2 separate regions of the Homo sapiens genome follow, and region 2 is linked to region 1. The links come from fine-mapping of genetic effects on gene expression. A gene starts in region 1. The other region holds a variant in brackets. All regions are shown on one strand. Distances are between the middles of the regions. Region 1 holds the start of ERMAP (erythroblast membrane associated protein (Scianna blood group)). Region 2 holds the start of ZNF691 (zinc finger protein 691).

The links. PIP is the estimated chance that this variant, and not a neighbour inherited with it, causes the effect.
Region 2: its variant is fine-mapped to the expression of ERMAP in pituitary (GTEx, PIP 0.95).

The regions. Positions count from the first base shown.
Region 1 is chr1:42,807,826-42,824,324 of GRCh38, forward strand. ERMAP (erythroblast membrane associated protein (Scianna blood group)) reads left to right here and starts at 9,297. Exons shown (of 12, transcript NM_001017922.2): 1 at 9,297-9,428. It overlaps SVBP (small vasohibin binding protein), which reads right to left and starts at 9,572. Exons shown (of 3, transcript NM_199342.4): 1 at 9,365-9,572; 2 at 8,606-8,755. The coding sequence starts at 8,719. RefSeq lists silencers at 8,446-8,515, 9,076-9,275, 9,426-9,715.
Region 2 is chr1:42,837,205-42,853,703 of GRCh38, forward strand. ERMAP (erythroblast membrane associated protein (Scianna blood group)) reads left to right here. Exons shown (of 12, transcript NM_001017922.2): 8 at 1,697-1,717; 9 at 2,829-2,849; 10 at 2,948-2,974; 11 at 3,066-3,092; 12 at 5,313-7,787. The coding sequence ends at 6,028. It overlaps ZNF691 (zinc finger protein 691), which reads left to right and starts at 9,409. Exons shown (of 4, transcript NM_001242739.2): 1 at 9,409-9,453; 2 at 12,087-12,209; 3 at 12,361-12,538; 4 at 13,746-15,273. The coding sequence starts at 12,455. The coding sequence ends at 14,609. It overlaps ZNF691-DT (ZNF691 divergent transcript), which reads right to left and starts at 9,210. Exons shown (of 5, transcript NR_186083.1): 1 at 9,053-9,210; 2 at 7,307-7,480; 3 at 6,200-6,246; 4 at 5,571-5,712; 5 at 4,691-4,809. LOC124904163 (a long non-coding RNA gene) reads right to left here and starts at 455. Exons shown (of 2, transcript XR_007066035.1): 1 at 1-455. RefSeq lists enhancers at 8,946-9,215, 9,376-9,445. The variant A/G (reference allele first, on the strand shown) is at 8,688.

The sequences.
Region 1 (16,499 bases):
ACAAATAATCTTCTGGTCTAGTTCTGTAAGGCTGCAAATTGGCCATCTCAGCTTAAAATCTATCATGGGACATGACAGGTGGTGGGGGAGGCTTTATGTGTAAATAAATGTAATGGAAAAGTATAGAGTCTGTTCTGGAAACTTCAAGCATGCCAATATAAAGGATATTATAGAGTAGGGGTTGGGGAGCTGGAGAAAGCAAGAAAATTATGTTGGGGTCTTAAATGTCATGCCAAGGAATCTGGATTTTATCTGGCAGATTCTGGAGAGCCAGCAAAGATAAGTGTGCAGGGGAGCAATGTGAATATAGTGTGTGTGTGTGTGTATATATATATATATATATATATATATATACATACTATGTATAGTATATATAGCTTATATAAGTTATAAGTAGAGTGCATATATGTTATAATATATAAGCTATATATACTATAGCTTATATATACTAATATATATACACTATACTTGCAAACCTCTGACATGACAGATCCTCCGCCTCAGCCTCCCAAAGTGTATACATATATATAATAATGGTATATATACTATATAGTATATATAGGCTATATATAGTATATAAGCTATATATACTGTATACAGTATATATATAAGCTATATACACTATATAGCTTATATATACTAATAGTGTATATATACTATATATAGTATATGGTATACTTGCAACCTCTGACATGACAGATCTTCCCACCTTGGCCTCCCAAAGTATATACTATTAATAGTATATATACTATATAGTATATATGTAGTATATATAGCCTATATATATAACCTATAATATAAGCCTATATATGTATGTATATATAGCTCATATATATAAGCTATATATGTATGTATATATCGCATATATATATGAGCTATATATATATTTCAGACAGAGTCTTGCTGTGTTGTCCAGGCTGGATTGCAGTGGCATGATCTCAGCTCACTGCAACCTCTGCCTCCCAAGTTCAAGCATTTCTCCTGCATCAGCCTCCCAAGTAGCTGAGATTACAGGTGCCCGCCACCAAACCCGGCTAAGTTTTGTATTTTTAGTAGAGACAAGGTTTCACCATGTTGGCCAGACTGGTCTCCAACTCCTGGCCTCATGTGATCCTCCCGCCTCGGCCTCCCAAAGTGCTGGGATTACAGGCGTGAGCCACTGTGCCCAGCCATAAGCAACGTTGATTCTTTCTGTGCTTTAGGAGGCATCTGTTACAACAGTCCAGACAGGAGGTCGTGGGAATATCGTCTACAGCAGGCAGTGGTGATGGAAAGAAGATGGCAAGAGACATCCTCAGGTGAAAGGCAGGGTAACTACACCTTATTCCTCATCATCTTTCTTTATTCTTAATTAATCCACCCACTAAGAACAGAAACAGATCACAAAACTTCCTAATTTGTAGAAGAAAAAAATGAAAGACAGAGTGTGTGTGTGTGTAGAGGAGCTATAACTTGATTAATTGAAAAGACAAGGAAGGGGGAAAAAATGAAACTTAGAAGTGGGACAAATAGAAAATACAAAATAAAGAGCAGAAACGAATGAAAAAGCAACCAAACCTACAATAGAGAGGATCACCAAGACTGCCAGATGGTTCCTTGAAAATACTAAAAAAAACCTTGCAAACCTCTGACATGACAGATCAACATAAAAGGGAGTGGGCACAAATAAACATTATTAGGAACTAGAAAGAAGACTTAACTACTGACATAACAGAAATGAAAATGAAACATTATGAACTCCGTGCCAACACATTTGACAACCTAAATGAAACAAGTTCCTAGGAAAAGTAAAATGATCCAAACTGACTAGAAAGCTTGAATATTCCTGTCATCTTTAAGAAAAATGGAATTCTACACAGTGATGAAAATAGTTACTAACACTACCGCAAATGATTCTTGAAACACAGAATGCGGCTGATGAAACTAGTAAATTTTATGTATATTTTACCATAATAAAAATAAATAAACTTGAATGGTTAAAAAAAGGCTGAGTGAAGACAGCCAGTCACGGTAACATATATAAAAGGTCAGAAACATTCAAAACAATATATTGTTACACAACAAAATATTTAGAGGTACACAGACAGTAAATTAACGTAGAACAGCAAGAATGATTAGCATAAAATACAGCAAAGAGGGTACTGCTGGTGGGAAGGGTGAGGTACATGACCAGGAAAGGAGTACACAAAGCTTCCCAGTTACTGGTCACGTTCTATAGTTGGGTGTTTTATTCTTAAGCCACATACACACATTATATAAATATACTTTTAACACACACACACACACACACATACATACATACACACACACACACACACACACACACACATATATTTTTTTTGTGAGCAGAGTCTTGCTCTGTCACCAGGCTGGAGTGCAGTGACCCGATCTCAGCTCACTGCAACCTCCGCCTCCTGGTTCAAGCAATTCCCTTGCCTCAGCCTCCTGAGTAGCTGGGACTACAGGCGTGCACCACCGTGCCTGGCTAATTTTTTGTATTTTAGTAGAGACGGGATTTCACCATGTTGGCCAGGATGGTCTTGATCTCCTGACCTCGTGATCTGCCCACCTTGGCCTCCCAAAGTGCTGGGATTACAGGTGTGAGCCACTGTGCCCGGGCCCACATATATACATATATATTTGAAAACCTCTGCTTGCTTCATTCACTAAGTATTTACTGAGCATTTTTAATCTGCACATTACTGTACTAGGGACTGAGATGCAAATTAAATAGCTTCTCAGAGACCTCCAGATCAAGGAGGCAAGATGGTAGGAGAAAGAGGAGACTCACAATGGGTCAGGGTGTCCAGGCCAAAGAATGACTCTCAGTCAAGAAGGAAACGGACCCTAGCAGTGTCAAACGGTGCTTCCACTGCCAATGTGCCTTCCGTTCCCATTCACCTCCCACATCTCTCCTTCACATCTAACTTTCTGGAATCTGGCGTCTGCAGAATTGAATAGAAACTGTCTCTTCCTCCCCACAAAGGGTCTTGTTGCATTACATTCCAGGCAATAAAGATTAAAAACAAACAGGATAGGCGCGGCGGCTCACATATGTAATCCCAGCACTTTGGGAGGCCGAGGTGTGCGGATCACTTGAGGTCAGGAGTTCGAGACCAGCCTGACCAACATGGTGAAAGTCCATCTCTACTAAAAATACAAAATTAGCCAGGCATGGTGGCGGGTGCCTGTAATCCCAGCTACTCAGGAGGCTGATACAGGAGAATTGCTTGAACCTGGGAGGTGGAGGTTGCACTGAGTCGAGATCGTGCCACTGCACTCCAGCCTGGGTGACAGAGCGAGACTCCGTCTCAAAACAAAACAAAAACACCAACCAACCAAACAGAAAAAAAAACAGCAAGGCAGCTGTAGGGGGCAAGGCAAAAAACAACAGACAAAAGTCAGAAGATGTTTAGACCACAGGCCTGCCCCTCTTTAACTACAGGACTCTACTCACATCCCTTTGAAGTGAGGATAATACTGCCTACCTCACAAGGCCATATATTTTACATATCGGATTAACCAAGGTTAAATGGGAGTCACAATAACTCCTGCTTTGGAGCCCTGGTGTGAGGACTACATGTGGCTATGCATGTGTAGGCTTGGCTCGGTCCTGGCACATCTCAAGAGCTGCACGGGGCCAGCTGCTGCTTGAGTGCAGCAACGTTGCATTTCAGCAGGTCAACAGGAACTCAGCAGTTGTTCAATTTAGGGTCCACACAATAAGAGCAGGCTGCCTGCTTGGAAACACAAGATTATTCCTGATCATAATCACTGCTAGTTATCAAATGCTTCCTCTGCCAAGTACTGCGCTATGGGCTTTACACGTGGTATTTCTATTCCTTTTAATGGTCTTCTGAGGTAGATGTTATCCTCATTTTACCAAGGAGGAACTGATGAACTGGGGGTTCAGAGAGGTTAAGTATCTTGTCCAACGTCACATGGAAGAACTGGGATTTATGGAGGAGCTGAGATTTGAAGTCAGACAAATAAATTTAACCTATAGAACTTTACAGAAGGGTGTCAATAAGGGCATGAACAATGTCCTCAACATCTATCCTTACAATATGCACAGAGGACAGTTTCATAGGGCTGTTTTTTTTAAAAACGGATTTTAACATAATTACTATGTGTACATAGACAATTAAGAATAGGGAAAAACCCCAAATTAATGTTTTAACAAGTTACAAGCTGTTACTAAAGACAATATCCTTGGATTTAAAAAAAAAAAAAAGAGTACAATAGAGGAAGTCTCTCATTCAACCGAGCAGTTTAACCAATCTCTTTTAATAAATCCAGCACATTACAGTGGTATAAATTTATCTTTTTTAACACTCCACATAAAAACATGTGTCCTCTCTTACATTTAATCATTAGTAGTCTCTAAAATGGTAAAATAAATTGAATTTACATTAGCAAATGAAAGTGCAAATTTGTACAGCTAGGCTCAGCAGCAAAAGTGAAGAATAAGAATGAAAGGTGAAAAGCTGGTGGATGCCATGCAGAGCGAGGACTTCCATAAAGGTCTGTGCCCTGCGGCCAAACACAGTCAACACACCACCATTTTCTTGTTGCTCTTAAATGAGCAAAACCAAATTTCTTTTTTATTTAATGAAATATTAAATCTTTATTTCCCCCTAACATAATTTGTGATCAAGTAGGACAGAGGTAAGTCCCACCATCACTGGGGACAGTAGCAACACACAGACTTCAGAAACAGCCTTGAATCATCAGTAACATCCTCCCCTGGTAACGTTAGAAGGAATGCATCTAATGACAAATTTGCAATGTTGTCACATTGTTCTAATTTATTTGATTAGTTTATCTGGAAAAACTTTACACATTATTGAAGACAACAGTAAATTATTTTCTTGCTCTGAAAAAATAATGTTTTTTCACATTTTAAAACCTTTTAGTATGCTTTTGCAAAAGTAGTTGCAAGAATATGACAGCTGGGTTTGCAGAATGTCCATGTACAAGTTTGTATTTATAAGAAACTGGTAATCTGCCTATAATTTGCCTCTACAAATAGAGCTCTTTAAAATAATATTTTTAAAAAAACAGGCTTAAACTTTTCCCTATTCATTCTACTTGTAGCAAAGAGGTACTTACTTTTCAAGTATTACATGGTAAAAGGCACAAGTTTTTTTTGCCAATTTTAAGCTGTTAAGCTTTAAGACCAAACTATGTGAAAAAAAATCATGCCTAGTCAATCCTAGTCAATCATTTTATAGCCAAATCCTCTTGTCTTTTAAATAACGCAGAAAAATACTAATTTGCTAAGAAGGAGCACACTGGAAAAAGCCATTTGAAAGTACTGAAGAATGAGGAGTATTTTTTTTCTACTGATGAAAATTATTAGGAAAGCTATCCTGTCTGTTGTCTTTAGCTAGTTTAAATAAATCTTTTCAAAATGATGGTCAAGAAATCTTTAGAAAACTGGAAGAGGGGATGCTCTTTTATAGCATGAAAGGAATTCCATTAATTATAGAAATTCTCGTTAAATTTTGACGTTGGTTCTTCAGAAAAAATACGCATTTAACTTCTGCAGTCTGTTGTGTTTGAACACCATCTACCTGAGCCAGGGGCCCAAGCGTTCCTTCATCATCAAAGGCCAAAACTGGATTCAAAGGAACTTCTGGGCTCTTACTGTTAGTGACATCTAATCTGGATGGTTTCGATCCAATGGGTAAATTTATAATTTCTTCAAAATTTTCATTCTGAACAGAGATACTCCATTTTCATTTGGTTTTCCAAATTGGGGGTGCTCTCCACAGTCACTTTTGATTGGTGTGAGGTAACCACATATGGGCTGGCAACTGGTTCTCCATTTCCCAGAGCATTTGTTGTACACGGAAGTATAGATAGCTCTGTTCCTCCAGTGAGAGCTCCCTTGGCTATATCACCATTTCTCTGATCAATGGTTTTCTTATCTGTAGCTTCTGTTCTCCTGCTTCAGGGCTGTTTCTTATAGCAACCCTCATATTGTTCACCAAAGCACAATGCAGTCATATCATCTGAGGACCCGGATCCAGGTGGGAATGGGAAGGTAAAGGACCACAGCTCTCAGGGGGTCTGCCTTAACCCAAAGGTAGATTTCAGTTTACAGATTAACTTCAAATGCACTAGTAAGTTTACTTATTATGTTTACTGCCTCCCCTTGCTGGAATGCAAGATCCATGAAGGCAGGGATTCTTTTCTGCTTTGTCATCATGTGACTCAAATTCCTCGAACAGTGCCTGGCACATACTAGCAGTTCTTTTTCTTTTTTTTTTGTTTTTGAGACAGAGTCTAGCTCTGTCGCCCAGGCTAGAGTGCAGTGGCACAATCTCGGCAACCTCCGTCTCCTGGGTTCAAGCAATTCTCCTGCCTCAGCCTCCCGAGTAGCTGGGACTACAGGGAGCACCACCACGCCCAGCTAATTTTTTTTTTAGTAGAGACAGGGTTTCACCATGTTGGCCAGGATGGTCTCAATCTCTTGATCTCATGATCCGCCTGCCTCGGACTCCCAAAGTGCTGGGATTACAGGTGTGAGCCACTGTGCCTGGCCAATATTTAATGAATGAATCAGGTTAACAAAAATTAAAAGTTGACAATATCGGCCGGGTGCAGTGGCTCACACCTATAATCCCAGCACTTTGGGAGGCCAAGGCAGTGGTGCACGCCTGTAATCCCAGCTACTCTGGAGGCCGAGGCAGGAGAATTGCTTGCACCCGGGAGGCAGAGGTTGCAGTGAGCAGAGATCACGCCACTGCACTCCAGCCTGGGTGACAGAGCAAGACTCCGTCTCAAAAAAAAAAGAGACTCACCATCAGAGAAATGCAAATCAAAACCACAATGAGATACCATCTCACACCAGTTAGAATGGCGATCATTAAAAAGTCAGGAAACAACAGGTGCTGGAGAGGATGTGGAGAAATAGGAACACTTTTACACTGTTGGTGGGACTGTAAACTAGTTCAACCATTATGGAAGACAATGTGGTGATTCCTCAAGGATCTAGAACTAGAAATACCATTTGACCCAGCCATCCCATTACTGGGTATATACCCAAAGGATTATAAACCATGCTGCTATAAAGACACATGCACACGTATGTTTATTATGGCACTATTCACAATAGCAAAGACTTGGAACCAACCCAAGTGTCCATCAATGATAGACTGGATTAAGAAAATGTGGCACATATACACCATGGAATACTATGCAGCCATAAAAAGGGATGAGTTCATGTCCTTTGTAGGGACATGGATGAAGCTGGAAACCATCATTCTCAGCAAACTATCGTAAGAACAAAAAACCAAACACCGCATGTTCTCACTCATAGGTGGGAACTGAACAATGAGAACACTTGGACACAGGAAGGGGAACATCACACACCAGGGCCTGTTGTGGGGTGGGGGGAGGGGGGAGGGAAAGCATTAGGAGATATACCTAATGTAAATGACGAGTTAATGGGTGCAGCACACCAACATGGCACATGTATACATATGTAACAAACCTGCATGTTGTGCACAGGTACCCTAGAACTTAAAGTATAATAATAAAAAATAAAAAATAAAAAGAGACTCCATCTCAAAAAAAAAAAGCAATGTGGCAATGTCTAGTAAAATTGAGAATGTACCCAGTAATTTTTCTAGTTAAATAACCTACAGAAATTCTAAGGCAGGTGCCAAAGGAGACACCTAAAAGCTTTTCACTACAGCAATGTTTGTAATAGCAAAAAATACTATAAATAATTTAAATGTGCATCTCTGTAAGAATGAATAAATATACTAAGTAAAATGGATGCATAAAATAGACTATTATAAAAATTAATGAGAATAAACTAAATTCTTATATTGGCATGAATAGTTCTAAAAAACAATGTAAGCAAAATGCAAAATAAAATGCAGGAATTTTATTAATGTAAAAATTTAAAATACTACTGTATATTGTTCAAGGATATCTATTAATATATTTGAATGTAAAAGTATAAAAAAAAGTAGTTGTCCATGGAGAAGTAAAAGGATGTAAGACAGGAAATGAACAAAGCAGACAGATAAACAAAACAAAGAGGGAAAAAGAGACCAGCAAGATTTTCCCTGACATTAAATACTAAAATAAAATACTTATGTCTGTATGTGGCTCAATATTGGCAGGGTAAAGTTTAAAGCTTTTTATTCTCAAGTTGATTGTAATCGTTGAGAGAACAAAGGAACACACTGGTGAGTTTAAAGCTTGGGCCTCTACCTGGCATGAGTAGCTGCTTTCCGCACCAAATCCAGAACATCTGTACTGGGGGTGTCTGACACTTGCGTGCTCTCTCTCATTCTGACCCCTTCTTTCCCCTTACATATCATTTTTTTTCCTTTCTTCCTTCCCTTGGGTCTCTTACCACAAAAGCTCCGCACCAGACTGGGGTTCTGACACTAACTTGGCATGTGATTCTGGGCTGCCACCTCACCATTCTGAACCTCAGTGTTGTCCCCTCTAAACCTGGGAGAACACCCATCCTGCCTGGAGGCAAGTATGGCTCGCTGTCAGTTCTCCTTTCTGCTGTTTCTCTATTCCAGCATCATCTCCAGCAGACTACAGGCATACAGAGCCTCCGCCTTAATCTCACCTCTGCTCTTTGTCTCTGCTTCAGCTCCTGCTGGGCTGATTTCTGTTTGGCCTTCTCAACTCTGCTGACAGATTCTTTAACTTTGGTTTTTTCTTTACGTGCAGGTGGATCCATGGCTTGACTTCTGGATATTTCTTAGGAGGCTCTGATCTGGGTGGTACAGAAAGAGGCAGATCTTCAAAACAAAACAAAACAAAAAATACCCTGCCAGTTACTCCTCTAATCCTTTAGCTCCGCCCCATCCTTTGCCAGGTGAGGCAGAGTGGTCTGGTGGCAAGGGCGCTGGATGTGGGGGAGTAGGAACCGAGTCCCAAGGCCACAACCTCGCTGGGTGTCCCTGGGCAAGTCTCCTCCCCACTTTGAGCCTTAGTTTTCTGTCTGCAAAATGGGTTAAGTGTTTTCCTGGCCTCCCTCCAGGAGCTGCTGTGTGCGGGTGAAATGCAAAGACCCCTGTGAAAGCGTTGCCCACTGTGCGGCGTGCGGCACCCAGCGCGGAACCGTCCTAATGGGACGCTGAGACCCAGAGGGCGCCCAGGGTTTTCCCACTGCGGCCGGCCTAACTCCGCCGCAGCAGCCGCTCCTGGGGCCAGGGGGCCGGGCCCCATAGCCAGCCGGGCCCGCCCCCCACCGCCCGGCCCCCCGACCCCGCCCCGGCCCGCCCGGCCCCAGGGGACGGCCCCCGCCTCCTGCCCTCTTCCCTCTCCTGGAGGAAAATGGCGGTCGCTGGAGCCGCCGACCAAGAGGCTTGGGAGTCTGTACCTTTCCCGACCGGGCCACTGGAAGTTGGAGCCTCCGCCGAGTCGCAGACAACGCCTCCGGGAGGGTAATCCTCGCCTTCCCCCGACCACTGGACCCAGCGCTGCCTGCCCACCGCCCCTCGTCCTGGGCGGGGCCGCGCGCCGGGGGGAGGGGCGCAGGGCCGAGCGCCAGGAGGCTTCCGCCCGCAGGAGCGGCCGCGCGTGCGCAGAGAGGATGGCTGGAAACCCGCGTAGAGGGCGGGGCGGGGCAAGCCGGTGCCGGGGCGGGGCAGGGGCGGAGCCACACCGGGGTGGGTGGTGGTTACGGCTAACCAAAGCTTTTTCCCGTTATATTTTCTGCAACAGCTACTAGGTTTTAGAGGGTGAGATCCGAATCCTGGAATTGGAATTGCTCAGAATTCGAATTCCGAGGCTCAATTTCTTAATTCGAAAAGTGGGGATTGATGATTGCCACCTTCTTCATTCATGAGTTTATTGGGAGGATCAAGTGAGATCCCGTTTGCCACAGTGCTTTGAAAAAGGAAATCTTGACAGAAGTACCAATAGCCAGTATAAATACAGAGAACATTCACGTTCAACTGATTACCGAGGAGATGTAAATTAAAATAGCTGGCTGTAATTTTCCAGGTATTACATTAGCAAGGATTGACAAAAATGATAATAGCTACCTTACATTTGGGCTTACTATATTCCAGGCACTGTTCTTACAGCTTCACATTTATTAACTAATTCCTCATAATAAGTGTGTATAATGTATACGTGTATATTATTATCCCCATTTACACATAAGGGAACAGAAGCATTGAAAAGTTAAGTGAGTTGTCCCGGGTCACACAGCTTCTAAGTGCTGGAGCAAATATTTCAGCCAGGATTCATAGGACAATGGCCTTATCCAAAGTAAAACCCTGTTTGGGTCCACTATTTGTTCCTCTATCAAACTGGCAAGAATTGAAACAACTGATAGATGCTAAGCAAGCAATGAACTCAGCCCAGATGGACACACGCTTCCAGTCAAACTGTAAATCGTTAACAGCCTTTCTGGAGGTCAGTTTAGTACTAGGTATCAAAAGCCTTAAAAGTGAGCACAATGCCCCAAAAAGACAAATACTGCATGTTTCCATTCATATGAAGTATCTAAAGCAATCAAAGTCTAAGAAACAGAAAGTAGAATGGTGACTGCCAGTGGCTAGGAGAGAGGGAAAAGAGGAATTGTTTAAAGGGTATAGAATTTTAGGTTTGTAAGGTGAAAAAGTTCTAGAGATCTACTGCACAATGTTTATTTTTTATTTATTTAATTTTTAAAAAATAGATGGGGTCTTGCTCTGTCACCCAGGCTGGAGTGCAGTGGTGTGATCATAACTCACTGTAACCTGGGCTCAAGCAATCCTCCCACCTCAGCCTCCAAAGTATCTGGGACTACAGGCACACACCATCATGCCTGGCTAATTTTTTAAAATTTTTTTGTAGAGATGGAGTCTCACTGTGTTTCCCAGGGTGATCTGGAAATCCTGGGCTCAAGTGATCCTCCTGCCTCAGTCTCCCAGAGTGCTGGGATTACAGATGTGAGCAATTGCGCCCAGCTTTTCCAAAATTTCTACAGTAAACGTTTATACTTTAGCAATCAGAGGAAAGTACATTAAATGTCTTTTTAAAAACCCTATACAAATGCTGATTCGATTATTATTAATAAAAGTAACCAAGTCAGAGTCTATTTCAGAAATCTTGATGTAGTACTGGTATTTTACATTTGTGTCACATGGTATGGTTTATAACGTTCATATAAGCTATGAACTAGATTACAGCTGAAGACACGGCAGGACCTTTAGAAGCCAGCTAAAAACAAACCAGCTATAGGGAATGGAGGAGTGGAAAAGCCACATGGAAGACTGGAAAAGTAGTGGTGCCACTGAGCCACTGTTGAAAGTGGAGAAGGTGTGATGAGTTGGTTTGGGAAACGGTGAGGAAGAGGATAAGTTAGGAGCGTGTGTGTGTGTGTGTGTGTGTGTGTGTGTGTGTGTGCGCGCGCGCAAGAGAGGGACCGAGAGAGAGAAAGAGCTAGATTACGCTTCAAGTGGCAATAGGCAAGAAGAATTGTCCAGTGAGCAATTAGAAGATTTCAGAAAAGAACGGAACTGGAGATACCAGTTTGGGATTCTACATTCTTTATTGGGAAGGTGAAGGTTGGAGCCAGGAGGGAGTGAATGTTGAGGCTGAACACTGTCAAAGTCCCCTCTCTATTCTTTCCATGAGTTTATGCTTTGTCTGTCTCTTTTGTGTCTACCAGTGGACTCTTGGCCAGGCTGCAGAATTTCCTGGTTTGTTGAATGACTAGCAAGAGTTTATAGTAATATAACTAGAATATTTTTACAGTTGAGGTATATACTACACTAAGATTATATTCACTTTATTGAATAATATTTTTTCTAGAGTCAAAAAATTATCTATTTTTATTTGCTTAATGATCTATGCATCCCTTGTTTATTTTTTATTTTCAGAGGTGGGCTCAAGTGATCCTCCCGCTTCAGCCCCTCAGTGGCTGGTACTACAGATGTGAACCAGGTCATTTACCAGTGTCTTTTTTTTTTTTCTTGGCAGCATCCCTCCTTAGACTCATCCTCTCTTTGCTCCAAACTCCTCTGCTTAGCCTTGCTTCACAGCTCTTGTCCTAGGATTAGGGACCTAACCACATTCTGGGGATTCTCTTCTTGTTTCTCCTGTGCCAAATCCCCTGCTCTCTGGATCTTATGTTTTTCCATTCTTGGTTTATTCTCTCATTTTGGAGGAGTATGTTCTCCACTAACTCCCCAGAAGGGGTTCATGGAAGCTAAATTTTTGAGTCCTTGCTTGTCTAAAAATGGCTTTATTTTCTTTCATCCTTGAGTGACAGATTTCCACATTGGAAATTATTTTCCCTCAGAAGTTTAACGGCATTGATTCATTGTCATCTAGCTTCTCATGTGGCTACTCTTGAGGAGACTGATTTATTCTGACTTGTGTTACTTCCCATATATTTTGTTTGTTAATTTGTTAATTTGTTTAGGATATTTTTCTCCTTTATCCTTGATGTTCTGAACGTTCATAACAAACTGTCCTTTAAGTATTTTTCATTCATTATGCTAAGCACTCGGTGGCCCCTTTCAATTGGGAAACAAAGTCTTCAATTCTGGGAAACGTTCTCTGTGATCAGTTTCTCTTTTTTTTTTTTTTTTTTTAACAAATAGAGACAGGGTCTCCCTATGTTGGCCAGGCTAGTCTTGAACTCCTGGCTTCAAGTGATCCTCCTGCCTCAGCCTCCCAAAGTACTCAGATTACAGGCATGAGCTGCTGCACCCAGCCAGTTTCCCTGTTTTTAAATTTTTCTTCATGTTCCATTTCCTGGTTTTGTTTATTCTAATTTACAAGAGATTTTCCTGAGCTGTATCCCCTGGTTCTTCTATTGAATTTTTTCATTTCTGCTACAAAAATGTTAATTTCCAAGAGTTTTTGTTTGATCCCCGACTTTCCTTTTTGGTAGCCTCTTGCTCTTATGTTGTGGATTCAGGATCTTCTCTTATTTCATATTTCTGAGGATTCCAGTTGTAATTTTCTGCTGTTTTCTTCTGCTTCCTAGATTGTCTCTGTTGTTTATTTTGGTCTCTGGCTTTCAAGTTGGAGCTTATCCTCAGACAATAACAGCTACCATTGAGTATCAGCCCCTATTTTAAGTATTTTGCATGTTTTAGCTAATTTAATCCTTACAACAACCCCGGGAGGTAGAGCCAGGCCCTGGTCCCTCCCATCCCAAGCCTGGAAGGTTCTCAGTTGAGAATCAGCTTTCTTCTTGCTGATGTCAAGGGTTGATGTCAGGAACCCTTTATCTGATGTTTCCCCCAATCCTGCCTCCCTCTGCAGGCACCTGGGTTAGAGTTCAGTTTTTCCTAGCTCTATTACTAGTGAGCCCTCTGCTTTCCTTCATTAAAGAAATGTATTGACATCTCTATTGCACAGTTACTTACTGTCCTGTTCTCTTTGTCCTTATAGGCTTTTCCTTTTGCACTCCAAGATTGTCATTTTAGATCATTTTGGGAGGTAACAGAGATAAGCATTTGTGTTCAATGAGACATGTTTATTTAACTGGAAATCTAGAGCTCCCTCTTTTTAAGTCAGGAAGCATATAGACCAAAAAAATTACAGTGATTATTACTGGATTCTGAGATTACGATTATGAGTGATATCTTTATCTATGTCTGTATCTGTTTTTCTCACTCATAGAGTTAGAAGTCTAAAAAGAACATTTCAGATAAGAAACTCATTTTATGATGTGATTTAGACTATCTGATAAAATGCTTCTGGAGAAAGCAGTAAAAATATTAATTATGACAAGTTATAAATTGGTACAATTACTTTGGAAAACAATTTAGTATCATCTATAACCTGGCAATACTACTTCTAGGTATATATTCTGAGAAACGCTTTACATTTAAAAATTATTGAGGACCTCAGGGAGCTTCAGTTTATATGAGTTATATTTTTTGAAATTTTCCATATTAAAAATTAAAACTGACTGGGTGTGGTGGTTCATGCCTGTAATCCAGCATTTTGGGAGGCCAAGGTGCGAGGATCACTTTAGGCCAGGAGTTTGAGACCAGCCTGGGCAACGTAGTAAGACCCCATCTCTACAAAAAAATTTTTAAAAATAGCTGGGCTTGGTGGCATGCACCTGTAGTCCTAGCTACTAGGGAGACTGAGGCAAGAGGATCACTTGAGCCTAGGAGTTCAAGGCTGCAGTGAGCTATGATTGTGCCTTTGCACTCCAGCCTGGGCAACAGAGCTAGACCCTAGCTCTAAAAAAAAAAAAAAAGAAAACTAAGAAAAATTAAATATAATTACTACTTTTAAAAATAAAAATAATAAATTATATAACAACAAAACATATATTTATGAAAAGCAACTTTTTTGAAACAAAAATATTACTGAGTAGCACTGCTTTATATTTATATAAATCCTTTTTAAAAAATTAATTTTTTTTTTTTTAAGATGGAGTCTCACTCTCTCGCCCAGGCTGGAGTGTGGTGGTGTGATCTCAGCTCACTGCAACCTCCACCTCCCAGCTTCAAGCAATTCTTGTGCCTCAGCCTCCTGAGTAGCTGGGATTATAAGCGTGTGCCACCACGCCTGGGTAATTTTTGTATTTTTAGTAGAGACAGGATTTCGCAATGTTGGCCAGGATGGTCTTGAACTCCTGAACTCAGGTGACCCGCCTGGCTCAGCCTCCCAAAGTGCTGGGATTACAGGCGTGAGCCACTGCACCCAGCCCTAATTAATTTTTAATTGACACATATGGTACATATTTATGGGGTACAGAGTAATATTTTGATACATACAATGTGTAGTGATCAGATCAGGGTAATTGGCATATTCATCTCAAACATTTATCATTTCTGTGTTTTGGGGACATTCAGTATCCTTTCTTCTTTATTTGAAACTACATAATATATTATTGTTAACTATGGTCATCCTACAGTGCTATAAAACAGTAGAAGTTGTTCCTCCTACCTAGCTGTAATTTTGTGTTATTGAACAAATCTCTCCCTATCCTCCCCTTCCCTCTCCAGCCTCTAGTAACCTCTGTTCTGCTTTTCACTTCTATGAGATTAACTTTTTCTTTTTTTTTAACATCTAACTATGAGTGAGAACATGTGGTGTTTAACTTTCTGTGCCTGACTTATTTCATATAACGTAATGTTTTCTAGTTCCATCCATGTCACTTTGAATGATGGGATTTTATTCTTTTTAATGGCTATAAATATTTTAGATGTCTGGCTTAATAGAAGACAGCTGTATTCTCAAGCCAGCTATATCTTTCAATCTGCTGCAGTATGTTTTGTGGTTGAAGTGTATGCAATTGGAAAAGGAGCATTTCAGTAGCTTTTTCAGATAATCGTGGATATTCTTTGATAAGACACCAAAACTCAGCAAGTGGTAGTTTTTTAAAGCTTAGTTGTGACATGAAATCTGAAACCATAGCAATGACCTTTTTATACTCTATTACAGCAACACTCACAGTTTTTTCTTGCATTTTAAATGAATGTTTTACCCATGCAGGGTTTTGTCAACACACCCATTGGTCATTTGGAAATTGCTGAGTCACTGAGTTTTACAGATCTTCTAAATGTTGACACATTTCATTATACAACATCAAAAAATCACATTTATTAATATCAATGCCAATCTCATCAGAAAAGTCTTTTGCTATTGTGAGGGTATCAAGCAGCAGATAAAAATTTTCCAAAATTCTAATTTTTGCTCAAAAGATTGAATGTTCTCATTGACAACAAACACTGTCAGTTGCTTTTCCTGAAGTGACAGGTGCACTTTATTCATTTTGGAGAAAATGCCTGCCAAATACCCAAGTCTGAATAATTATACTTTGTCTTTCAGCTGTACTTTCAGGTAAGAATGGTGCTCCATGAGTCAAGCGATTACTTCAGCTCACAACTCAATCACTTAAGGTTTTTTCCTCGATAAAGTCATCATACTTTGATATGCAGCGTAACTGTTTATGCATCCTTCCCATTTTGTCACACAAACTATTAAAAAGATGTGTATCTAAGAGTTGAAATTTAATAAAATTTGTAACTTCTACTACAGTTTGGTGCCACTTCCTGATTTGTGCTAGCTGTTTTACCCACTATTGCTTTTGCAGTGTCCTTGAAAATGTCAATACCGTGAAAAAGGCAAATAACGTCTTTATTATGATGAATGTAGTTTTAACCTGGATGATAGGGCCTCAGGGACTTCAAGTGTTTGTGGACCACACATTAAGAACTGGTGCTCTAGAGAAATTCTTGCACATGTGAGCAGGAAATACCTATCAAGAATGTTCAGGGCACGAGGCCGGGCGCGGTGGCTCACGCCTGTAATCCCAGCACTTTGGGAGGCCGAGGCGGGCGGATCACAAGGTCAGGAGATCAAGACCATCCTGGCTAACACGGTGAAACCCCGTCTCTACTAAAAATACAAAAAAAAAAATAGCTGGGCGTGGTGGCGGGCGTCTGTAGTCCCAGCTACTCCGGAGGCTGAGGCAGGAGAATGGCATGAGCCCAGGAGGCGGAGCTTGCAGTGAGCCGAGATCGTACCACTGCACTCCAGCCTGG
Region 2 (16,499 bases), 29 kb after region 1:
GAGTAAGGGGTAGGGAACAAAAAACACATTCTTTATTTTTCTATGTAAATGTTGACAGTCATTATTATAAGTCTATTTTTATAATACTGTACACACATGCACACATATATCCTCCATTGATATTACTGGAATTTAGTGTGCAATGTTAAGGGGCTGTGGAGCTTGTGGCAGTGGGTAAGGAGGTGCCCAGGTCAAAATTCACAGGCCTAGATTACCATAAACTCCCTTCATTAGCCTTTCCGCCAACCATTTTAAAAAGAAGTCTACATATTATTGAAAAGTATATTAATGTGGTCATATGGGATATATGGGAATTTCAAGAATCCACACAACCTTTGCATAGAGAGAGGTGGTATGATACAAAGGAAGGGTCGCAGGCTCTGGGGTCAGTGACACCTCAGATCATTGGTCTGCCACTTAGGTTTTGGTTTCCTCATCAGCAAAATGCAGATAACTTCCCCTTACCTGATTGTTTTCAGTGTTAAAACAGGCAACCTTAAAAAAAAATCTGTCACAGTGCCTGGAACTCCTTTTCCTTATTGCCATTTTGTCTTCATTAATTTGACATTTACTGTGGGCCACTGAGTTGGACACCTTGTTGAAGTCTATCTGGGAAGACAAGTCACTGGCTCAGATGACTCCAGATTCAATGATGTCAGCGTCTCCTCTCTTCCCTCCTTACATTTCCTCCAAGCTGGTGCAAGCGTGGCGTGTATCTGGCAGACACTGGCTGTTCTGCTCAAGTGAAGAGGGAACAGTGTGGGGTAAGGGAGAGGGCCTCTAACTCAGGAGTCAGACAGACTTAGATTGAATCCTGCCTCCTTGGTCACTTACTAGCTGGAAGACCTTGGGCAAATTTTGTGTCCCTTTGAGCCTCAGACCACCCCCCTATAAAATGGCAATAATAATTCTAGGCATCTCACATTATTGAGAGGATTCAGTGCCTACTTCAGTATAAGCACAGCAGACAGTAAATGGAAGCTGTTAGTAGTGGAGATGGTAACAATAAACCATAAGCTCCTTAGGAGCCGTGTCGTATTCGGCTGCATTGCTCCAATGCCTAATGCCTAACACATGCCCGGCCCTTAGCACAGGGACTGGTGGTGGACTCAGGATGTGTAACTTCAATTGTCTAGCAGGGCCAATGCTGGGTAGGGGGAAATGTGGGCCACATGGCCCTCCAGAGAAGCTGCAAGTACTCCCCAGAAACACATGTCTCATACACATGTCCCCAAATCTTCTGGGACCTCCAATTTGTGAAATTTATAACCTCAGGGGAGTTACTGTAGAGAATAATACAGCCATATTAACAAGTTCATGCTAGGCCTTTAGCTAGTTTTACACCTTAGATACCATAAACGGTGGGCTATAAAAGGACAGCAGTGCATACACTCATGTACCGCAGTTACAAACATATAGAAACACTCATGCCGACAGCAGAAATGAAACCAGACAGATGAAAAGGAGGGGAAGGGGAAGGAGGAACCAAAGTCCCGGGCAGGCTGGGTCACTGGGACAGTGTCACCAGCACCATCAGATTTCTGGGTCTGAACTCTGGGACACGGAGCTGGACTAGGGACATAGAAGCGTCACCATCATTTTAATCTTGTGGGTTGGAGTGATGAGGCTGCCACAGCTCTGAGGAAAAAGAGGCAGGATCTGATCACTCACTCTTCTCTCTCTTTCTGGTTTTTAGGAAAACTCCATAAAGCTGTCAGTAAGTTTTGCTCCTCATCCATGGCACAAGCTCCTTCTGCTGACACTTTTGCTTTGGGATGAGCATCTCAGTTTCACTTCCTGGGGCAGAAGGGAGGGGGTACTGGTAATTCAAGCCATGGGGACTGGGGCTTTCTTGGCTCTCAAAGGCCTCTTTTCTCAAGTATTCTCTGCTCCTCTTTCCTGCACAACTATTATTTAGTCTTTAAATGAAAAACGTTTCACCAGGAAGAGATAGATGCATCTCCCATAGGTGAAGCCATCTGGAAGTCCCTTTTATCACCCAGGCATGACATTTCCTTAGATGGGGTCCAGGAGGACAGGATCCTTATTAAACTGAATATGCTGGAGCAGTACTTCTCCATCATTTCATGTGTGAGGACCTCTTTTTAACATTAAAAAAAAATCTGGCCAGGTGCAGTGGCTCATGCCTATAATCCCAGCACTTTGGGAGGCCAAGGCAGGTGGATCACTTGAGGACAGGAGTTTGTGACCAGCCTGACAACATGGTGAAACCCCGTCTCTATTAAAAATACAAAATTAGCTGGGTGTGGTGGTGCACGCCTGTAATCCCAGTTACTTGGGAGGCTGGGGCAGGAGAATCGCTTGAACCTGGGAGGCGGAGGTTGCAGTGAGCCGAGATTGCACTATTGTACTCCAGCCTGGGCAAAAAGAGCGAAACTCCATCTCAAAATAAAAATAAAAATAAATCTGTAGACATGTGACATATCTATGCATTAATTATTACATTGAGAAAATATACATGATCACAAAGTCCAATACTCAGTGATAGTTTTAAATGAAGTAATATTTCCTACAACATCTACATAATTTATGTTGTCATTACCTGTAGGTGTGAGATGTGTTATTTATTTAGCCTGCAGATAAGGTTTGGCTCACATAGGAATTTGCTGATCCTCTGCAGTATCTCTGGGGATACTCCCATGGTCCACAGCTGGGATCTACTGCTCTTGCAAACTCTTCTGGGGAAGTTCCAGGGTATAGCTATTGAGTATCTGTCTGCTCATGGTTGGGATGGGACTGTAGCATTATGGGAGGGCCTCTACATAGAGGCCCTCCTTCTGATTTGCCAAATTGTTTTCATTCTTTAGAGAAACTCCGGAGTGAACTGAGTAAGTTTCCCATGTTCTTGTAACTTCCGTACCAACTTATCTCCTGTTGCCCTAATATTTGCAGTGATAGCTCATTCCCCTTGTTTCTTCTTTCATAGAGTTGAAAAGAGCTGCAGCAAACTCAGGTGAGATGCACTTTCTCCACATTTGACCACCACCCTACAGGAGTTCTTGATGTCTCTGGTACTTTAATGATCCCCTTTTCTCATTTTTCAGGCTGGAGAAGAGCCCGGTTGCATTTTGGTAAGTTATACCAATCAAATAGGTCCATATCTCAGAGCACTTCCTCCTTATGGCTTTGTAACCTTAGATTTTGTTCCATTCCTCTGGAATGCAGGTAATTTAAAAATTTTTAAATCAAATCTGTATATCTGACTATCAAATTAAAAAAATCTTTGTGATCGATCTTGAGGTCATATTTAGATTTAGAAAGTATCCCCTCTTTTAGAGCACTGATAATATTAGGTTTGGTCTTCTTAAGGGTTTTCTGTGGTTTTTGAGATTTTTCCTATGTTTATCAGTTATTTGTATTTCTTCTTTGTGTGACTTGTCTGTTCCTGTTCTATTTGGGCTTTTTTTTGATTTGTGAAGACTCTTTCTAGATAAAGTATATTAGCTCTTTGTCATATTTGTCACCATTACTTTTCATTTGTACTTCCTTATAGTATTTTTCTGATGCATAAGTGTTTTATTTTTACGTAGTCAAATTCATTCATCTTTTTCTGTGTAGTCTCTTCCATGCTTTCAGGTTTGGGAAGTCCTTCCTATCCCACAACCAGATAAATAGCCACTGCTTCCGCCTCTTTCTACACATTTGCTTTTTCTTCTTTCTCTGCAGACCAATTTGCTTAGGGGTGGTGATTGAGATTCTCAGAGAAGAAGGGAATGGGTTGAGCAGATGCCCCAACAATATACATTATGAAAAGATTTGCACCTCTCTTTCAATGTATTCCTAAATAGTTTGCATTTTTTGCTGCTGTTCAAATGGGACCTGTTTTTTTCACTGCTTTGGGATCCTTATCAATTTTCTAGGCTTTTATCCTCCTCCTGTTCACACCATCTTCCTTCAGGCAGAGTACAACAAATTATGAGTTGGCCACTCGAGAGAACTCCAGGTCACCTTGGCTGGCATTCTGGGAACTTACAAACCCTTCTGTCTCACATTTACAGTCTGGCTTATTGCCACCATCTCAACTGTGTATGGTTTATAGACTTAACTCTCTAAGAAGAAGCTGTTTCCTGTATTTGGGGAAGGAAGGAGACTCACTGTGACACTCATAATCCACAATTTTAGGGAAGAATCCTTCTCTCTATATTAACATTTAAAAATAATAATTTCGTCCTACGTACTTGGGAGGCTGCAGTGGGAGGTTCACCTGAGGCCAGGAATTCAAGGCTGTAGTGTGTTATGACTGCATGCCCATGAATACCTACTGCATTCCATCCTGGGAAACATAGTGAGACCCTTCCTCAAATAAAATAAAATAAAGCAGATAATTATAAGTAATAATTTTAGGTGACAGAATGAATATCATGCACTCACTGTAGGAATGAGGCACTATATCATTAGTTCATCAAGTCTGCACAATAGCTCTACAACACAGGTTCTGTTACTATTTCCATTTTACAGATGAGGAAACTAAGGTTCAGAGATGAGTAACAAGCCCAAGGTCACATAACTAGCATGTGGCAGAGCTGGGATTCAAACATGCTATGTGGCTACAGGATCTAACAACAAACCCTGTATTTATCATCACACATTTGATTATTTTGGAACATCAAAGACAAATGTGGTGTCTTACTCTGTTTTCTGTTGCTATAACAGAATACCCGAGACTGGGTAATTTATCAAGGAAAAAGGTTTATTTAGCTCATGGTTCTTGGGGCTGGATGGTCCAAGATTGGGCGACTGTATCTGGTGAAGGGCTTGTGCTACTTCATAGTATGGTGATAGTTGCTTCTGGAAGAACAGAAGGGCAAGTGAGTGCCTCCAAAAGCAGAGAGGAGACAAAGTGCCCTGACCTGCTTTATCATAACCTGCTCTCCAGAGAAATAAACCCAGTGTTGTGAAAACTGCATTCATCTCTTTGTGAAGGACCCAAACACTTCCCACTAAGCCCTACCTCTGAACACTGCAGCAATGAGGGATTAAGGTTCCAACACGTGAACTTTTGAGGGACACACTTAAATCATAACAGGTAGTTATTTCCTGAGGATTAAAGCAGTTTCACAGACAGATGAAGAAGAACTTTTTCTTCTATTACTTAGTAATCGACCAGGAGACCTATTCTTTGAAAGAGAATATTCTTTGGTTCCAGTACACATGGTGGGGGCGGGAATCCATGAACTAAAATGGGCTAATGACAGTGATGGCAGACCTAAGATTCTTTTTCCCTCCAAAGCCATCCCCAAATCCCTTAAGACCTATACTTCCAAGCCTCACCTGTCTGTGTCTCTTTGCAGTGGCAGTGACCCTGGACCCAGACACAGCACATCCCAAACTCATCCTTTCTGAGGACCAAAGATGTGTAAGGCTTGGAGACAGACGGCAGCCTGTACCTGACAACCCCCAGAGATTTGATTTCGTTGTCAGCATCCTAGGCTCTGAGTACTTCACGACTGGCTGCCACTACTGGGAGGTGTATGTGGGAGACAAGACCAAATGGATTCTTGGAGTATGTAGTGAGTCAGTGAGCAGGAAGGGGAAGGTTACTGCCTCACCTGCCAATGGACACTGGCTTCTGCGACAGAGTCGTGGGAATGAGTATGAAGCTCTCACATCCCCGCAGACCTCCTTCCGCCTTAAAGAGCCTCCACGGTGTGTGGGGATTTTCCTGGACTATGAAGCAGGAGTCATCTCTTTCTACAATGTGACCAACAAGTCCCACATCTTTACTTTCACCCACAATTTCTCTGGCCCCCTTCGCCCTTTCTTTGAACCTTGCCTTCATGATGGAGGAAAAAACACAGCACCTCTAGTCATTTGTTCAGAACTACACAAATCAGAGGAATCAATTGTCCCCAGGCCAGAAGGGAAAGGCCATGCTAATGGAGATGTGTCCCTCAAGGTGAACTCTTCTTTACTACCCCCGAAGGCCCCAGAGCTGAAGGATATAATCCTGTCCTTGCCCCCTGACCTTGGCCCAGCCCTTCAGGAGCTCAAGGCTCCTTCTTTTTAGGGATATGCCACATTACCTGCTCCCATCACCATCCAGCCCAGCACCCTGGACTTCAGTCGCCTGGCCCAACCCCATGATTATGGAACGTCTCTTCACCTTAACCCAAATCCAGACCCTTTTGTGGTTTCTATTTGTACCACTTTTCTCCCAGGCCTCAGTTCTGAAGCTTACCTTTCTTCTAAGGAATTGAAGCTCCCAGTGACCTGGAGGGAGGATTCCTGGAAACCAAACAATCAGTTTAGGTGCAGGTGGAGATGTTGAATATGTGTTACCAAGATACAGCACAGGTTCAGGGAAAAGAGTTCGCTACTCCAGGGGTTATTTAGAAGACACTTTCTCTGCCTCATCCTGCCCTCAAGCTTTAGTCAAGAAGTTATGGCCCCCAGTCCCTGACTTCTTACTTATCCCATTGAGGACTGCCTTTCTCTCTCTCAGTTCTGGCCTCTGCCCCCCAAAGTCAGCTCTCTAAAAGCAAGCATGTTTTAGACCACTCACTCTTTCCCTCTTTCTTCAGGAATGAATTGGGAAAGGCTGATGAGTAAAACATACCATCCTTTTCTATTTTCTTGATGCTGTTTACAACATAGTTTGGTGATATCCAGAGCTAATGTACATGCTTTCAAAAGCTAATCTGCCTGTTGATGGTAACTAGGTACAGCGACTTTAAATACAGTTGCTATAATCCTGAAAAGCCCCAGGAGCACATCAGGGAGCTGGGAAACACAGTTGCAGAGAACTCAGCTGTATGTTGCCCTCTGACCTTGGCCCAGACCTTCAGAGGCTCAGTCTGTTGAGTCTGTTGTGACTGTCTTATGAATCAATCTGTTGTGCCAACCCTTTCTGAGATTCAGAGAGGTCCAGCTAGAAAAAGTGGCAGTTTTAACCACCAACGTAGAAGCTTTTTTTTCCCCACAAGACCATTGTACTGCAATACTTGAGTATTTGTGTAGCAAACAGCCTCTTAGGTTGGAGAGTATTGATTTCAAATAGGAAGTTGGTAGACTAGGTGTGAGGATGAAATAATGACCTTGATTTTTGGGTGTGTATTGCAGAAGCCTCGTCGCTTTCAAGTCACATCATATATGCGATCTGGCCTAACCATGGAGATATTGGTTATCAGTTTGCAGATGAATACACAGTTCTATCCAACAGAAACTGTATCTTTCTGTTTGTCAGAAGTTCTCCGTTAGTTCCTGTATTAGTCAAGGTTTTCCAGAGAAACAGAATCAATATATATTGGGGCAGGGGGGCGGTGGTTATTATAAGGAATTGGCTCACGTGATTATGGAGGCGGTTAAATCCCAAGATCTGCAGGATAAGTCAGCAAGATGGAGTCCCATGAGAGCTGATGGTTTAGTTCCAGTCTGATGGCAGCAGGCTTGACGCCAAGGAAGAGATGATGTTTAATTCAAGTCCGAAGGCAAGGAAAAAGCTGATGGTCCTGTCCAAAGGCTATTAGGCAGGAAGAATTCTCTTAGGGCAGAGTTAGCTCTTTTGTTCTATTCAGGCCTTCAACTGATTCAGCAAGGCCCGCCCACATTTGGGAGGACAGTCTGCATTACTCAGTCTACTGATTTGAATGTTAATGTCATTGAGAAACACCCTCACAGGAACACTCAGAATAATGTTTGACCAAATAGCTGGGCATCTTGTGACCCAGTTAAGTGGATACATAAGATTAACTATCACAGTGACTCAGTGGAATTTTTTGTTTGCTTTTGTACAGTTTTAAAATAAAAGTTTGGTATTTGTGTTTTGGTATGCTGTTATTTTCATTGTGAATGAGGAGTTGTGGGGAAGGTAAGAGATTGGTTTCCAAAGAGCTTTGAGTCCCCCAAGGCAAGGTTTAGCCACCGTTCATACTAAAGCCATAGTTTTATTCCTGAGTCTGCTCTCTAGTATTTTATTTTATCAATTTATAAACAAATAGTGTTCATAAGGCACACATATTTCACTCAACCATATTCAGTTCCAAACATGCATTCCTGAATATCCCAATCTTAAAACTAACTCACATTGTCAGCTTGTGGAGGCAGAATACATGCATACATATACACATACATACATGAATATACATATAATATACACACACATATGCATACATACACATATACACATGTATACATGTATGTGTATATACATATCTGTACTACATAGGTGTATATATATGTATATGTATTTAGCATGTATGCACGTGTATATGTATACACATATATACATATGTATGTATAATACATATTCACACATGTATGCATGTATATACACATGTATACATTAGTATATGTATATACACATGTATGTGTATTATACATGTATATATGTACATACATATCAGTCTACTGATTTGAATATTAATGTCATCAAGAAATAACCTCAATATATGTATGTATTATAACCTTACAACTATATAAAACATACATACATATATATGTATATATGTATACACATACACATGCATGAGAATATATGTATGTATATATAATATCCTCACAGTAATTCTGCCAGGGATTTTATGGGGGAGGGAGTTGGTACTCCAAATGGCTAGGTGGTAGAGCCAGAGTTTTATACTTGGTTTATCTAGCTCTGAAGGCAATGCTCCTTGTTCTTTGCACTGAAACATTGTGCAGATACGAGAAGCCTGTAGTTTACGTATTTCATT[A/G]GCCTTTTATTATTTTAAAAAATAAAACCTGAAAAAAAAGACCTAGTCCTGGATACTTTGGTGATCTTGTTGTGTCTGGATTGACGAACACGTGTCAGGCTTAATTAGGGATGCACGCGGAACCCGGGAAAATCCCTGCTCAGGGGGGCTGGAAGACCTGGAGGTTGATCCTTGAACAGGGTACTTTTAGCTTCTCCGATAAGGAGATTGGGTTATTTTATCTTTAAACTCCCTTCCAGCTCTACCCTCCTTTGATTTTAAGTTATAAACCTTGAGTGAGGTGCCAGACTCTAGGCTTCGTTGGACGTCTACAGGACGGTCAAGGATTACCAACTCAAAGTAAAGAAGGAAATTTGAGTACTTGCCCCCTTGGAGGTTGTGTAGGTTGGCTATACAGATTCTACAACTTCCCAGACGAGTGGCCCTGAGACTTGGGGCTGAACGCGCGAGCACGGAAAGAAATCCCACCGTAGGACGGAACCCAGTCTCTTCAGCTCCATCCTAAACTTCGCAAGTTTTCTCTGAGTCTACGCGCTTCCTTAGGACTACAACTCCCAGCATGCCACGCCAGCGGTCAAAGCTTATTGGTGGTCCTGCCAGGTCGCTTGCGTTGTGGCAGTCATGGTAGCCAATGGAAATAAAGAATTATCCCAAGAAACCAATCCTGGAGTAGTAGGGCGGATCCTTCCTGGGTTCCGGCTCCGGCTCCAGCTCCTTCCCTCGCCTACAGAGGCGGCGCTGTCCCTGATCGAGCGGCGGGAGCGAGGTGGGTCCGGGTTGGGCCCGAGGTCGCGGGGGGAGGCGGACACGACTTCGCGGGAAACTCTGTACACGGCCACTTCCCTCTCACCGAGGATCTGGATGCTGCTGCTTTGCTCCCTGGACCGAGTGGGAAGCCAAGGGGCCTTGTGGTCCCTCCGCCGCGACCCTCGCCCTGGCCCCCGGCCCACGCAGCCAGGTGGCTGTCCCCAACCCATTCCCCGGCCCTTCTGTTGGGTTTGAGTATACAGCCTTCCTGCCGCTGACCATACGTTTAGGATCAGCCCCTCCTCCTCTCCCACCTCTCTGGCCCCAAGCCCGCCGGCAATCTCTGAAACCAGCTCTTGTACCCTTGGACCTCCGCCATTGGCTTCTCCCCGCCCCGCAACACACAACTCAGCTCTTGGGCCCTGGCCTGTGACACTTCTGGCAGCCTTTGCTTCCTCTTCCCTGACCGTCTCCTGCGACCCTCTGACTTCCTTGGTCCTCCTGTATCTCTGACCCGTTATCTAGCTTCCCTGTACAATTACCCTGTTAGCACCTTGCTCTTGGTCTTTCATAGCTCCTCTCTCCTCTTCCTCCCTGCAGCCCTTGACTTGGCCCCAAAGACCTGTAACTTCGGACCTCCATACCGCACTATGGCTTGGCCCCTTGCCTTTAACCTAGGCGCTTCACCTTCATCATCTGTGATCACTAGCCCCATCTTCTTGGCTCTTAACTTCTTAGACCTGGCCCCTCCTCCACTTCTCAGCCCCTTCCACCGTTGCTTCTCTCTGTGCAGCTGAGCCACCAGGAAGACAAAGCCCAATAGACCCCTTTTCCCCCCAGATCTCTGCAGTGTGATATGAAAGTGCCTCTGTACTTCAGCTGCACTGTCTTCTCAGTAGGTAGTTGCCTCTTTATCTCTGCAAGTCCCAGTCTTACCCATCCTGCAAACCTTAGGTCAAATACCTACTCCTCCTTGAAACTTCTCAGCCCTGATTTCATCAGGGAGATACATCTGTATCATGTGAACTTCAGTGGTACTGTTTTTATTTCCTTCCTTCCCGTCTTCTCTCCTTTTTTCCTTCAGTAATAGTATAATGGTTAAAAGCACTGACTTTGAAGTGATGGGCATAGGCCCCAGTTCTGCCACTTACTTGCTGTGTGCCCTTGGGCAAGATACTTAATTTCTCTGAGCCTCAGCTTTCTCATCTCTAAAATAAGGATGATGTGAAGTGAAATTAGATGATTCATATATGGTCCTTAGTCCACAGCTTAGCACTTGATTCGAGCTTTAAAAAAATGTTAATAATGTGCCAGGTGCTGTGTTAGACACTGAGGAGTGGGTACAAAGGTGACTAAGGCACAGTTCCTGCCCCTGTCCCCTGAACTTAACCTTCTGCATTGTATGACAATTTCTGGAGTTCACGGTCTGTTTCAGTACACTGTATCACAAACTGAGTGGTAATCATAATCCTAAATCCTTTTGCTCTTACATTGACCTAGCATCCAGCCCCGGGTAGAGCTGGAACTTGGTAAATTATAGGTTCTCAGAATAGCAGTTTCGGAAGTGAGTGGAGGCTGAATAGCTCATTGCGTAGAGATACTGTAGCTGTAGGTCAGATGGGAGCAGGGCAGGGGGTGGGGGATGGGATGGTGGCGTGAATTAAGATCACATCCTGTCACTTATACATTCAAAAGACATTTGAGCACCCAGCTTTATGCTGCAGAAGGAGATTACTAATATGACCCAGTCCCTTTCCTCAAGTTGCTTATAAACTACTAATAGAAACAGACATGTTCTACTAGTAGTTGCAAACCACTATAAGCCAAGCACAAGATTCTGTGACTGCATAAAGGAGAAAGTAGGCAGGAATCAGGAGATTGCTGAGGAAAAGTGGGTGAGACAGTTCATGGTTACTTGTGTCCCATGAAGACAGAGCTGGTGTTTTATTCAACTCATTCAACAAATACTTATGAAGGATCTACTGTATATGGCTGCCACTACTCTAGGAGTTTTGGTTACATTGGTAAATTAAAAAAAAAACAAAAAAACAACAAAGACACCAGCTCTCATGGAACTTATGTTTTAGGGAAGCAGACAATAAATAATAGACATAAAGAGAATGTCAGAAGGTAAGATGTGCTATGGGGCAGGAGGACTGGGAGTGTGGGAGTGATTTTAATTTTTTAAAGGATGGTCAGGAAACAGTGTCTAAGTATCAAGGAATAGTTTCTCATGTTTACTTGCATTTTTGGAAGTAAAGCAAACCAATTATTTTTCATATTCTTATCTAAATTCTTCAAGGAACACTAACAGGGATTGGCAAACCACAGCTCACCTCCTGTTGCTTTAAATAAAGTTTTATTAGAGCACAGCCACACATTCCTTTATGTCTTGTCTATGGCTGCTTTCATGATTCATGATACAGTGGCAGAATTGAATAGTTACAGCAGATATCCCATGGCCATAAATATTTACTAAATATTATCTGGCCCTTTACAGAAAAAGCTTGTCAACCTCTGGTTCTTAAAGAGTTGAGGTTCTGTCTGTATTTCACATTTTAGAAGGTTATATACAGTTTTATGCTATTTTTAAGTTAAAAGTTTTTTCTTAATGAGATCATTTAAAAGATCTTTTTCTTGTATTCTTCACAGGGCCTGGACGTAGTGTCTTCAACAGTTGTAACAGCAGCTGCCATTTGCTGAATGACAGCATGTGTCACACACTCTGCTGAGTATTACAGGCATTTTTTTCTAATACAAAGTCTTGTAGTGTGGGTAGGTATCACAATTTTAGTGAAGAGGGAGTTTAGGCTCAGAGTGGTTGAATAATTTGCAGAGAGCGATAAAGATAGTATGTGTCACAGTTGTAATCCAACCCTAAATGTAGTCAGTACCCCTTTCTTTATTCTGTGTTTCTTTTTTCCAGAAATACTTGCAGACTTGAAGGAATTATCAGTCTTTCATTTTCTATCATCAGTGTCCTATGATAGTTTGTGCTTCCCTCCCTCATCCCTTTGTTCATGTCACTCTGTTCACCAACCCACTCTGCTGAAATGTCGTTATTTCTTCAAGGCCCGGAGGAAATGCTACCACTCTCATCAGAGGTACTTTTCCCCCCAACTCTTTCCCTGTCCTTGGCTGTAGGAACCCAAAGGAGTCTGTGCAGCTTAGCACACATTAGTGATGTTTGCACAAATCAGGACCTGTACTGGGCACTCTTATGTGTTTAGTTTTGGGGTGGGGTGTGGGGAGTGTGGTTTGTGTGTCTGTGTCTGTGTTTATCTTTGTGTGTACTTGGTATGTGAGTGTGTGTCTGTGTGTGGTGTATGGGTATATGTGTATAGACATGTATGTAGCTATATATGTGTGTGGCTGTGGTATGTGGCTATATGTGGTATGAGTGTGTATGTAGTATGTATGTGTGTGGTGTGATAATGTATGGCTGTGTGTGGTGTGTAGGTGTATAGCTGTTGTGTGTGGTATGAGAATGTGACCGAGTATGTCAGGTATGTGAGTATGACCGTGTTACGTGAGAATATGGCTTTGTGTATGGTGTGACTGTGTCTGTGTGATTCTGCTTGCTTGTGTGCATGCATGCGTGTGTGGGCGGGGGGTGTGGGTGGGGCTTTGTATGGTGTTTGAGAATGTAGTGGAGGGCACTGACTGATCAGAAGAAACACAGCCCAGGCCCCACAGTAGGTCCTGGAGGTCCCAGGTATTAACCCAGATGTTTACTTGCTAGATTCTGGTGTGGGCTGGAGAGGGGTAGAGTGGCAGAAATCTCAAGAAAAGCCAAAGCTGGGCCTTGTCACCTAGGAAAGCCTCAAGATTTAGAGGTTTTGTTTTGTTCATTTTGAAAGCAGGCATATAGGTAGATACTTGTAAGGAAGGTTTTTCAAAAAGGATTAAACATAAAAAGAGTTACAGTTAACTTACAGTTAGGCAGAAAAATTGAACTTATCCCAAAATGAAAGCTCTTTTACTTGCCCATGAATTATAGTCTGGATTGTCATTGCTTAGTGGTTTCAAGAAGAGTGACATTATTCAAATGGCACAAATATCATCTGGTGGTGGTGGACAAAGCCGGTGCCTTCTTTTTGCTCTGGTGGGTAGCTTTAAATATCTCTGAAAGTTTGTCACTTAAAAGGTAGCAAGTAAAGGTATTCTATCCAAGTATTCCAGTTGATTGAGGTTATTTCTAATGGATGGTCCCATGGGGAAGGTGTATACCCTTCAAACTGAACAAAAGATTCCCTGTGATCTGGCCCAACCCAAAGAATAAAGGTGTTGGCCATTTGTGTTCATTCTCAGGGTTCAGAGATGGGCAGTGAGAAGGAGCAGAGTCCAGAACCACACCTGCCTGAGGAAGGGGAAGGGGGTAAGCCTTGGAGAGTGGATGACTCAGAGGGTTCTTGGATCCCACCTGGGGAGAAGGAGCATGGGCAAGAGAGCCTGTCGGATGAACTGCAAGAAACTCATCCAAAAAAGCCATGGCAGAAAGTCACTGTCCGGGCTCGAGAGCTAGGGGACCCCATTGCTCATCCAAGGCATGAGGCAGATGAGAAGCCCTTTATATGTGCCCAGTGTGGCAAAACCTTCAATAATACCTCCAACCTGAGAACACACCAGCGGATCCACACTGGTGAGAAGCCTTACAAGTGTTCTGAATGTGGCAAGAGCTTCTCGAGAAGCTCCAACCGCATCCGGCACGAGCGGATCCACCTGGAAGAGAAACACTACAAATGCCCCAAGTGCCAGGAGAGCTTTCGGCGGCGCTCAGACCTCACCACGCACCAGCAAGATCACCTAGGCAAGCGGCCATACCGCTGTGACATCTGTGGCAAGAGCTTCAGCCAGAGTGCCACGCTAGCTGTGCATCACCGGACCCACCTGGAGCCAGCACCCTACATCTGCTGTGAGTGTGGGAAGAGCTTCAGCAACAGCTCCAGCTTTGGCGTGCATCACCGCACCCACACAGGTGAGAGACCTTATGAGTGCACTGAGTGTGGGCGGACCTTCAGCGATATCTCCAACTTTGGAGCACACCAGCGGACCCACAGAGGGGAGAAGCCCTACCGGTGCACTGTGTGTGGGAAACACTTCTCCCGGAGCTCGAATCTCATCCGCCACCAGAAAACTCACTTGGGCGAACAGGCTGGGAAAGATTCCAGCTGAAGGAGAGCCCCATTTAGAGTGAGGGAGAGAGAGTGAGAGACCCTAACCTATTGGAGGAAGATCTTCAGCATCTTTTGCTGCTACCTTGACCTCAAGCCCTTCATCCCACTTTGGAGAATGGTTTTGTATAGCCTCTGAAGTCAGGATCTCAGGAAGTCCTGAGGAGGGACTCTGGAATAAAAACCCTTGCCTCTTTCCAGGCCAATTTCTCGTGTTGGAAAGTCAGAAGACCCAGTCTTGGCTTTACTTTCTTGGGGTGAAAGAGAAATAGGGTAGGCTCAGAACATGCTCATGTTATTAAGGCAGCAGTCCCCCTGGCCTTTGAGGAAGTACTTATGAGATGGGTGTCACTGTCTGAAGGTTCTCCAAATTGTCTGTGAACTGCTTAGGTAGGAGTGCACTGCAGTTTCCTGCTAGTTCCCACCTGTTGTGCCCCAACTTTGCTTCTAGATCTCTGGGGTGGGAGGAGTGACCTTCTCAATGGAAGGGGCCTCCTTGGTCTGGAGAAGAGATCTGAGGTCCCACCTTAGAAATGAAAGGGAAACCCTCAGGGAGCCATGACCCAGGGACCTTCACACTCCCCCATGTTTGTTACTTGTTATCCCTCCCCCAACCTGCCTCTGTTTTCCCCAGAGTGATTAGCAGTAAAACCCTTCAATGAAAAGGACCCGTGTACTTATTTGGGGAAGTGGGGAGCTGGGGAGATTGTCCCACTGAACCCACTCTGGAAGGGATTTGAATTCTAAGAAAGACAGATGGGTAGATGCTCTGAAAAGCAAAGGAAAGCAGACTGAGTTTCTGGGGCCTTTGAGGAGAAGGGGGAAAGGAAAGGAACTAACATTAATTGAGCATCCACTACATGCGATTAATTCTGTCAGTCACATTTACATTCATTATCTCATGTAGTTCTCACAGCAACTCTCAAAGGAATAAGAAGAGGACATGAAAGTGAGGGAAGATAAAGTCACTTGCTGTGAAGTCATACAGCAAGTACGTTGTGGAGCAGAGTTCAAACTTGGGCCTCCCTGACTGCCAGCTGTTGCTCTTTTCACTACATTTACCTTTTGGCTTCTGAAGGAGGAGCCACTTAGGAGACTTGCCTGGAGTTAGGAGCCAGTGTGGCCTCTTCATATGGCCTTGGGCCATTTGCTCTATGGCAAGTCAGTGCCAAGCATGAGAACGTTTTCAACTTTATTTTATTTTGAGGTCAACTTTATTTTATTTTGAGACAGGATCTTGCTCTGTCGCCCAGGCTGGAGTGCAGTGGTGTGATCACAGCTCACTGCAGCCTTGATCTCCTGGGCTCAAGTAATCCTCCCACCTCAGTGTATGGAGTAGCTGGGACTGCAGGTGCACACCACCACACCTGGCCTCAATGTTATTGATTGAGCACTTACTCTGTGCCAAGGAAAAACGGCAGTGACGGGGAGTACAGGGTGAAGGGTGGGATAAGGTGAGAGAAATCTTAAAACCCATAATGAGAGTCTTTGCTTTTAGTAGCAATAGTTTAGTCCTCAAGGCTGGAACAGCTTAGCAGGGATTATGTCTGGTTTCCTGTCCTCCTGGTTTAGGCCTGGCTCCACATGGCAGATTTCAGTGTTTTCTACATGGAAGTTTAGTGTTCACCCAGTTTTCCTCTAACAAATACAAAAGAACCCTTCCTCTAACAAATACAAAAGACCCCTATCTACCTCTCTTGTGAATCTGGGGCCCTACTCTTCCAGAGTGAGGGGCCCTCTTCATTTGTAGCCAGTTGGCAGAGTGTGATTCTGGCACCGGGCTTGGAACTGACATCACCCATAACCTTACCTAACATGGGGACCCTGCCGTTCACCAGTAAGAGATGTGCCAGGAACTTTACACTCATTATTGAATTCTCACAGCAACTAA